Linked DNA regions of Homo sapiens: region 2 is linked to region 1. Evidence: fine-mapped expression QTL. A gene starts in region 1. The other region holds a variant in brackets. All regions are shown on one strand. Distances are from middle to middle.

Region 1 (5,374 bases):
TTTTTATTCTGTATTACCTATATATACATGAAAATACATAGAGAATAGCCTGGAAAGACCACAAAAACTGATAACTTCTGTTTCTGTGAGTAGGTCAAGGGGGCCTTTATTCTGTCTATACTGTTTTGAGTATCAGATGAGTTTGTGTTCCCTATATATACATGAAAATACATAGAGAATAGTCTGGAAAGACCACAAAAACTGATAACTTGTTTCCGTGAGTAGGTCAAGGGGGCCTTTATTCTGTCTGTACTGTTTGAGTATCTGACAAGTGAGTGTGTGTTCTGAGCCACCTGCAGAGTTGCAGCACACAGTCACACAGAGTGTGCACTACACAACTCCAGCAGCTGCCAGGCACAAGGACTCCAATGTGAATGGTGCTCCCTAAAGCTGGGCAGAATACAATCTACACAACTAGGTGCCACAGCTCTGATGCTCGTGTAATTCGAAATCAATAAAAGGGAGTAGGGAAGATAGAGAATGGACTGCAAACCAGCATAAGGGAACATTCTGGGGTGATGGAAATTTCTTGATTGGAATGGTGGTTACAAAGTATACAGCAGTCTCCCCTCAGAAATAAACAATTTGTAAGTTTTAAGTTGTGTACCATTCTGAATAGCGTGACGAAATTTTGTGCCATCCCACTCTGTCCCACCTGGGATATGAACTATCCCTTTCTCCAGCATATCCACACTGCATAAGCCACCTTCTGGTTACTCACTTAGTAGCTGTCTCAATGATCAGATTGACTGTCATGGTATCACAGTGCTTGTGTTCAAGTGACCACTGTTTTACTTAATAATAAAGTGCAAGAGTAGTGATGCTGGCAATTGGGATATGCCACAGAGAAGCCAAACATATGCCTAAGAGAAGTCATTAATCTCTCATGGCAACTAATTTATAAGTTAAAACTTTATCATAGATACTTAAGTATAGGGAAAAAACAGTCTATATAGGGTTTGGAATTAACTGTGGCTTCAGGCATCCACTGGTGCTCTTGGAACATATCCCTGAGGCTAATGGGGGGACTACTGTACACATTTTTCCAAAACTCATCCAACCGCACACGGGAAATCTGTGCATTTTATTTTGTCAACTATACGTCAAAAAGTTGGTTTTAAAATAAATACATAAACAAAATATCATTGAGAGAGCCTGGAATAAGGCACCCAATATTGTAGAACCTAGGCACCTCTCAACAAGAGACCTGCTGGCTGTACAGCCCTGAAACAGGAGAAATAAATTTACTTCTTCAAGGCTTCCTATACAATGCCAGATTTTGATTATTACTTATTTTTCACACGAAGAAACTAAGGCCCTGAGAGAGTAACATAAAGACATAAAATAAACAATAAGTTGAAATTCTCTTGGTTCTGAGTCTAATTTTCTAACCATAGGTAGAAATTTGTCTCTCGGGCATAGTGGACATCCAAAAACTCTGCCAGCACTACCTTGACTGCACAACCCCTTTCAAAGGCAATTCCACTTATGCATGATAAAAATCCTTAGAGAACTCATAAAAGGTCAAGTTTTAATTTGGCAGACAAAGTAACCCAACAGGCACTGCAACCCAGGTTACTGAAACAGCAGCCTGGAGCTCCAGAGTTCAGAGATTCAACCAAGGCAGAGCACAGGTAGAATTCCAGCCCTTACAGAAAAGCAGAGGCACCAACAGCCTCGCACTACAGGTCTAAGACCCAAGAACCAGGACCAAAATGAAAAAGTGTTCTCTAGACAACACTACCCTCTTCCTTCTCAAGTAATAGAAAAAGCCAATGGGAGAAGGAACAAAATGGGATGATCTCAAGCAACAGGCCAAGGAGCAAGCTCTTGAAGGCCAACATGAAAGACACATGGGAAAGTGGTAGCATGGCCACAGAAACCAAGACCTCGCCGCCTTAGCCATTGCTTTAACGTGCCCAGACCTCAGAACCGGGGTTGCCTCGCATAGCAAAAAAAAAAAAAAAAAAAAAAAAAAAAAAAGAGGCAGAGAGAGAGAACTTGTGGAACAGGAGAAATCCAGCAACCTTCCCTAACACTAGAGTGACTGACACTGCTCCATGGCAAATGTGGCCAAACCTTGCTTGTCCATTCATTCATGCAATAGACACTTATGGCTCAACCGCTGTGAGCCAGGCAACATTCTGAAGATTTAGCAGTCAATAGTCATGGAGCTTATTTCTAGATGGGAAGGAAGGAAACTTCCTTTCTTTCCAAACGTCTTTTTTCCCCATCTAAGAGCCCCCTTTAAATGTTACCCGTAGGAGCCTTCAAAACTCTCCCAAATTTCTCCCATAGGCTTCTTTTGACCTTTCTGCTTTATCCCCAAAACCACGCAATTTATGGCTCCAATTTCCCAATACTGGGAAAAGACAAAAGAGACCGAAAGTAAATAGGGCATGCGACATAAAATTCGACGCTCCTTTGTATTTCATGTGCATATCTTCACAGCCACACTGTCAGCACCTCAATAACATGACGGTGTTCCATACTATTTCGTGGCCCCAGTGCTGACTACGGGTCTCTACCTACGGTAGCTGGAAGGTCTTCCTAATCCCAAGGCCTGGCACAGGAATTTAAGGGCAAGTATTCGTCACCGGCATCCTCGTCTCGGGACACTTCTTTCCTGTCCAGGGTGACCTCCTGGACAGGTTCGCTATTAGGCGCCTCGGGAAACAGTGATTTGGGGTGATCTGAAATAAATACCCTTCCCTCTGCCAGGGCCTGCCCGCCTCACCTGCCCTCTGCCAGGACCTGCCTCACTCGCCCCTTCAGCACCTAACGCAGAGCCGCCTCCAGGCGAGCCGGGCTCGGGCAGCATCAGCCCGGCGCCGGGCCCCCGCTCGCGCCCGTGCCCCGGCGCGTTCCGGACCCCGATACCCCTCCCGGCCCGGGATCCGCCGCATCCCCTCTGCCTGTCCCTCCGGGGCTAGCCGCGCCGTCCCACCTCGCAGCCGCGCGCGGTGCAGCGGCCCCGGCTCCCCGCGCCCTCCCCGACTCCTGCAGCGCCGCACCCGCAGGCTCCCGGGTCCCCAGTCCCGGCGCAGCGCGAGCTGCCGTCCCGCACCTCGCGGGCGCGAGGCTCCAGCCCAGCTCGTCTCCCCACAGCCCCGGCGGCGGCCGCAGACCCCCACCTTGCTCACTTCCCCGCCGGAGCAGGGGTCGTCGGGAAGGTCTCCTGCGGCCTCACTCCTCCGCACGCTCCGGCCCAGCCCCCTCGGCTGAGGCAGCGGCAGCGCCTACTCAGGCCCCGGAGCCACCCCCGCGGCGAACGTTCGCAGCGCCCGGCTCGCGCCGCTTCTCCGCCCGGCACGCGCAGCGCCCGCCCCCGGCGCGAGGGCGCGAGGGCGGAGGGCGGAGGGCGGATGGGCGGGCGCGCGCCCAGCGCGAGCGCGCGGCCGGGGGCGTGGCTTCCGCGCGCGGGGAGGGGGCGGGAGCGGCCGAGCAACCCCCCTCCACCCCGCCCCCGCGGCCGCGCCCCGCCCACCGGTCGCCGGCGGGTTCCGGGCAGGCGGGAAGCTGGCTCCATCCAGGCTTCTCCCGCTCGCTGGCGTCGGGCCGGGTGTCTTTCCATCCGCAGGTATCCGTCGGCGGGGTGCCCGGCCCGACGTGACTACCCGACAAAGAATGCAAAGAGCCACCCCGTGAATCATTCTCCGCGCCTGGGTCACAAGCCTGTGCCCGAGTGACCCCCGTGAACTCCGCAAGCTAGCCCAGCCGCGGCGTGCGCCCCGCGCTGCACCAGGTGCCTGTGGGCGCACGATCACGGTCACGGCGCCTGGGCTCGAGGCGCCCCAAACTTAGCGGGGAAAACAGCCATGTACACAACCAAGTCCGATGACCCGTGCAGAGCCAAGCCACGGTGCGATGCTGGCACAGAAGCTAGAGACGACTTCTGCTTGGACGCCGCAGAGGGCTAGAGGCGGCATTTATGGTCAACCTCGAAGGAAGAAAAAGAAGTCCTAGGAGGAAAAAGGGAGGACATTAGGGCTGGGAAAACAGTTTGGGCAAAGGAGCCGGGGCAGCCAGGTTTACCATCTCAGCACCAGCTTTTTTGTGTTTTACTGTTATCCATCTTTTATAGAATTCTTTCCAAACTGTGAAATACAGGAGATGGTGCCAAATTAGAATATAGCAAGGACTTTTTGAATGGTTCAAATGGTCATTCTCAACGTTACTTAAGACTCAAAACAGCAACGTCCTTTGGGGGCTATTGGTCAATGATGAAGGCTGTAAGCTCCAGAGCTAAGCGACCCCAGGCCTGCATGCTGGGAGTATGGTTTTCACTGCTTTTTGGCACCTTACGGTAAGGCAGATCGTGCCACCTCCTGCTGCTGCCTGCCTGCCTGCCTGCCTGCCTTTAGAACACCCTCTTCCTCCTCCTCTCCTCTTTTTATTTTTAAACTCCTATGGTGAAGGAAATGCTGATAACCAACTTTGTTAAATGGGAACAAATAGGTTCCTCAAAAGATGAGCATTTTCTGGCCTGCCGCGGAGGCTCACGCCTGTAATCCCAGCACTTTGGGAGGCTGAGGCAGACGGATCACTTGAGGTCAGGGGTTCGAGACCAGCCTGGCCAACATGGCGAAACTCTGTCTCTACTAAAAATACAAAAATTAGCCGGGCGTGGTGGTGTACGCCGTAATCCCAGCTACTTGGGAGGCTGAGGCAGGAGAATCGCCTGAACCTAGGAGGCAGAGGTTGCAGTGAGTCGAGATCGCACCACTGTACTCCAAGTCTGGGCAAGAGAGTGAGACTCCGTCTCAAAATAAATAAATAAAGATGGACATTTTACCTTTTACCTTACATATATGAAGTGTGTGAATATTTTCATGCTTGAGGAGACTTATCTCTTGTAGGCACGGTCTTGGCTATGTTTTGTACATATTAAGATACTCAGAATACAGGTAAGAGACCTCTAGCTTCTTTATTTGCCCTTTTTGAGCACCCCCTATGTGGAAGGCATTGAGAGGGGTAAAACATTGATTCTGTTCTTTGGAGAAAAGATGTGTAAATAATATAAAATAAATGTGTAAATATCGCTTGATATGTTCGGTTTATTGATTGAAACCAAGGTAATTTCAATATGTGGACTAGACAATCCTAAACCATAAGGGAATTAAATACTTCAAGGACACTGTATTGGCATCTCTCCATCTCTGTTCTCTATTTCTTCACCTCCCACATCCTCAGAAAACTTTTCAAACACCTTTCAATCATTCTCCCCCTCTCACTCCAAAATTACCAACTTCTCTTTACTTGTCTCTTTCCTTCATCATCTATTCATGTTTAAGCTTTTCCTGTCCTCAAGAAAAAGGAAGAAACCCTTTCGCTGTCCCTCTAGATTCTGCTTCAGTTACTAGTCCCTCTCTGA
Region 2 (5,374 bases), 54 kb before region 1:
AATACAGAATAACAGATATAATTCTCAATTAACCTGGATCAGCACTAAAACACTTGTATTTTTCCATTCATTAAGATTATTATTAGTCTCAATGGCTGGTCTCCGATGAAAGAATCTGTTAATTTACAGAATAATCTAGATCAGGCTATTTATAGTAAAAAAAAAAAAAAAGACTTGGCCGGGCGCAGTGGCTCATGCCTCTAATCCCAGCACTTTGGGAGGCCAAAGCTGGTGGATCACGAGGTCAAGAGATCGAGACCATCCTGGCTAACACGGTGAAACCCCATCTCTACTAAAAATACAAAAAATTAGCCGGGCGTGGTGGCAGGGGCCTGTAGTCCCAGCTACTCAGGAGGCTGAGGCAGGAGAATGGCGTGAACCCAGGAGGCGGAGCTTGCAGTGAGCCGAGATCGCGCCACTGCACTCCAGCCTGGGCGACAGAGCAAGACCCCGTCTCAAAAAAAAAAAAAAAAAAAAAGGAAAAAAAAGACTCATTAACCCCTCAATTAAGTATTGCCAGTAATGTGTGGTCCCTTAACATACCATCTCTGAGATCCACTGTTTAACCATTTTTCTTATTCACAACAGCCACGTAGAAATCTCCACACATAATCTCCCACCCAACAAACTACGAATCTTCTCTTCCCTCCACCTGTATGCACTTTCAGGTGAACAAATGTATGCGTGCTTAACATCACAGGCTTTATTAAGGGTCAGGGGATATGCACCAAAGTGTCAATCTGTAACTCAACAGGATAAACAGACTGTATAAGCACAGTGGAAGGAGTTTTAAGTTCAGGTAAAAGTAGAGGAATCTGAGATTAAGGATCATAGTAAATGTGAGCGGGATGAATTTACAGACAGGAGAGATTTGGCGAAAATACTTAGTGAACCTTTATGTTTAAGAATACATTCATAAGTTAAGTATGCATCCTGAGAATGGGGCAGTGGGCTCGAGGTGTTAATTATTAACCCTTCTTCCCCATTCAAATCACTTTTCATTTACCACTTTAGGTTCACAGTTAGTGCTATCAAAAGGTTTATACACTCTTCAAAAGGAAATATTAATATAAACAAAAATATACACAAAAGTTATAATTGTATATTTAAATACAGTTATAGAAACTTATTAAAGAAGCCAGGCGTCGTGGTTCACGCCTGCAATCCCAGCACTTTGGGAGGCTAATGCAGGTGGATCACTTGAGACCAAGAGTTTGAGACCAGCCTCAAACTGTATTAATAAAAATACAAAAATTAGCCAGGTGTGGTGATACGCGCCTGTAGTTCCAGCTACATGGGAGGCTGAGGTAGGAGAATCGCTTGAACCCATGAGGTGGAGGTTGCAGTGAGCCAAGATCACGCCACTGCTCTTTGGCATGGGCAACAGAGCAAGACCCTGTCTCAATAAAAAATTTAAAAAGAAACTTATTAAAGATACCTACTTTAAAATTCCAGTATAACTTGGCATAAAGAAATAGTTATCCGATAAAATTAATGAAGGGGTAGTCTCAACATCCTTACTTCCACAAATCACGTTACTTATATTTTTCCCTTCAAAAAGAAAAAAAACTTAGCTCTTTTCTCTCAATTGTTTGCTTTGCAGGCCAAACATCAGCAGTGACTCCTCTGCACAGAATGCTTTTCTTGGCACTGAAACCCCTCAGTCTACTTTAAGCCTAACTTCCTACAACTGCCTCTAAACAAGGCCAAGAGGAAGCATTACTTTTGCTTTTCTAATGTTTCTTTAGAGCCCCAGCATTCTTCCTCTACAACTAGAGGCAAGCAGAGAGAAAACTGCAGCTCCTCAGCACCCTGATACCGCCCGACTTTGTTCTTTATCTAACTGATTCCTTCTTCTTGGAAGAACTCATTCTTGATCCTTCCCACGAGACATCTGAAATTATTCTGTATACACTGGTCAAGTTGAAACTGAATAATTAGCTGCCAGTGGCCACAGCACATGTCCTCACCAATGTCCATGTTTTCACTACTTCCAATGTAAAGTCCAAGTTTATACCAGAATCAATTCTCTTCAAACAAGATTTGGAAATGATATTTAACCTGGTTTCATCACAAATAATGTTACTCACTTCAAATCTGGCCTATGATAGCTACAGAGTTGATTGGTAGGTCAACATTTGAAATATAACGCCATTAACAGTGAATACGAACCCCTCTATCAAGACACTAAGATGAAAAGATAAACAGGTAATATTTGTTGAGATGATAAGACAGAAGAAACTTGTGATTTTAACCCCACTCAAATAGAAGCCCTCCAGGGAATGTCCTCCTTCAGTAAGGGACATGATGATCCCTTTCTCAGCCTTCTCTGCATGATTCATTTCCATAGCCCTATCATTTTACAGTCTGACAATAAACTATGCATATGACTTCTAAAAAGAGTTATTATCCAACACTGAGAAAACACCATTATTAGCTCTGTGCCAAGCTAAGCAGACAATGAGTCACCCTGAATAAACGCTGTTATGTTTTAACATGCAGGTACCTTCTGAAGCCTCTGAAGTCCCCACCTGTTCCCTGTGGATGGGAAATCATTCGTTTCAGTTCAATAAGGTCTCAAATTCTGTCTTTCAATATTTAAAACTAACCAAATCTGGATGACGTTTCTAGCTTTACACTATCTAGTAGGAGTTTGCTATTCAAATTAATACTTTTGAAAACAAGACTACGGGTAGTATTTTGTACTTAACACAAGCTGTTTCTATCTCTTTAGCAAATGATTGTGGATGCTGCCAACCACAAATTTCTCACACGGAAACAAACTTCAACTTCAGAAACACTATTACCAGTCCGATTATCATATGTAGCTAAACGTAATAAGAGCATCTCTCTTTGATTTTCAAAAACTCGCATTCTGCCAATTAATCTTAATTTACAAAACTTCACAGTGAATGGATGTTGCAATAATCAACTGCAAATCAAGAATCCATTTGGCAAATGTCAAACAGCTTTAATCAAGTAAAATCAACTTAGAATATTATTCAATTTTATCACAATCAGAATGCCTGCTGCTTTTCATTTCAATCTTATAAACATTTATAAATAATCTAGCATTATACTAATTGAGGAATGAAAGAAATATAAAGCAGAATCTCTGCTCTCACGGACATCCATTCCATTTTGAACACTTATGAAGCAGTTTACAACCTTATGTAATTAAAGGCCAAAATAATAATATAAACAAGAACTGTAAGTCATCAAAAGGATGAAAATGGGATTGGTGATAATAAGGCAGGCTACATG[G/C]TAGGTAAAAACTTGGGTTGAGGCCGGGTGCAGTGGCTCAAGCCTGTAATCCTAGCACTTTGAGAGGCCGAGGTGGGCAGATCAGGAGGTCAGGAGTTTGAGACCAGCCTGACCAACATGGTGAAACCCCATCTCTACTAAAAATACAAAAATTAGCCAGGCGTGGTGGTACACACCTGTAATCCCAGCTACTCAGGAGGCTGAGGCAGAAGAATCACTTGAACCCGGGAGGCGGAGGTTGCAGTGAGCTGAGATCGCGCCACTGCACTCCAGCCTGGGCGACAGAGTGAGACTCTGTCTCAAAAAAAATAATAAAAAAAAAATCTGGGTTGAATTCTCAGAAATAGAAAAGATTTGGACAGAACAAAAGGAGACTGGGTAATCCCAGACAGATGTGGGAGCTGAGGGGGAACAAAACGCATGGCATCTGTCTGGGGAAAATGAGCATGTCATATTGGAAAAGAAGAGCGTCTCCAGGAGCGTAATTAGAGGTTGGTGTGGGCAGGGAGGTAAGCAGTGTTATCATTAAACCAACGGAGGAGTGTGAGCTTAATTCAAAACCACAGGGATTCTCTGAAGGTTTCTGAAGTGGGAAGTTACATGATGAAACAGTGTCTTGATCAGATTAATTTCGAAGTGAGGTACTGAATGGACAGGAGAAGTCTCTCTGGACTTGTTACTACTTCTCTCTGTTTCAGAAGAAAACAAAGGCAAGGAAAAAGAAACACACTCAGAATAAAGCATTCCTCCTGCCCTTTCTTTTAAAAAAATAAATGAAAAGCACAAAAGAATAAACAAAAAAAATTTTCTGAAAGATTAGTTAATGGTAAAACCCTTTGCAAGTCTGCATATTCTGAATTCAGAAGATTCTTATTTGTAAATTAGCACAAACTCATGACTTCTGTTGGAAGAAAAGCTACAAGATAAAGAGTAAGTAAGTGATGGATGGCCAGGTGTGGTGGCTCATGCTTGTAAGCCAAGACTCTGGAAGGCCGAGGCTGGAGAATCCCTTGAAGCCAAGAGTTCAAGACCACTCTGGGCAACAAAGCAAAACCCTGTCTCTACAAAAAATAAAAAATAAAATAAATAGCCTGTTCACACTGAGAAACAGCTCTGAAATTTTAAAAAGCAAAAGAAAATAGCCAGGCATGATGGCACGCACCCAACAGTCCCAGCCACTCCGGAGGCTGAAGCAGGAGAACTGCTTGAGCCCAGGAGTTCAAAGTTGCAGTGAGCTATGATCATGCCACTGCACTCCAGCCTGGGCAGCAGAGCAAGACCTTGTCTCTTAAAAAAAAGAAAATTTAAATGTGCTACAACGGTGGAAAATCTTCCCACTCAGCATAGGACTCTGATCTTACTTGGCTGGCTTTTTTCTTATGATCCTGAATCCTTCTAAAAACAAGCAGGGATGTAAATAAATACTGTACACCAACATATGAAATGTCTGTGCCTCCCAGGAAATTACAGTTTTGTTTAAAAATCACTAATGAAGAAGACTGTAACCTAATATTATCTTTTATCAGCAACATCCATTCCATAACATGCTAGGCTGGGCAGATTAAGAATTTATGGAAGACATTTGCTTTTATTTGAAATGGACTGGTTTGTTTCTGCTTTGTTTTGTATTGTTTTGTTTTAAACATTCAGTATTAAGGGGGAACAATATAACTTTTTAAATGGATTCAAATTAAACTGCTAAATCAACTTTTTTTTTTTTTTTTTGAGACGGAGTTTTGCTCTTATTGCCCAGGCTGAAGTGCAGTGGTGTGATCTCAGCTCACCGCAACTTCCGCCTCCCGGGTTCAAGCGATTCTCCTGCCTCAGCCTCCCTAGGATTACAGGCATGCACCACCACCATGCCTGGCTAATTTTTTTTTTTTTTTTTTTTTTTTTTTAGTAGAGATGGGGTTTCTCCATGTTAGTCAGGCTGGTCTTGAACTCCCGACCTCAGGTGATCCGCCTGTCTCAGCCTCCCAAAGTGCTGGGATTACAGGCATGAGCCACTGCACCCAGCCTAAACCAACATTTTTAAATGGTTGTTAGCCACATTTGCAAACTACACAGGAATTTTTTCATATAACTCTATTATAAATTATATAAGTATCTT

The links. PIP is the estimated chance that this variant, and not a neighbour inherited with it, causes the effect. A credible set is the group of variants that fine-mapping cannot tell apart.
Region 2: its variant is the best candidate, but not a certain one, in a credible set for the expression of DTNB in whole blood (TOPMed, PIP 0.62).

Annotation. Positions count from the first base shown.
Region 1 is chr2:25,670,252-25,675,625 of GRCh38, forward strand. DTNB (dystrobrevin beta) reads right to left here and starts at 3,326. Exons shown (of 21, transcript NM_021907.5): 1 at 3,135-3,326. RefSeq lists silencers at 2,775-3,704, 3,069-3,363.
Region 2 is chr2:25,616,475-25,621,848 of GRCh38, forward strand. All of the region lies in intron 4 of DTNB (dystrobrevin beta), which reads right to left. Among named protein-coding and RNA genes, the nearest start is that of DTNB, 54 kb to the right of the region's middle. The variant G/C (reference allele first, on the strand shown) is at 3,265.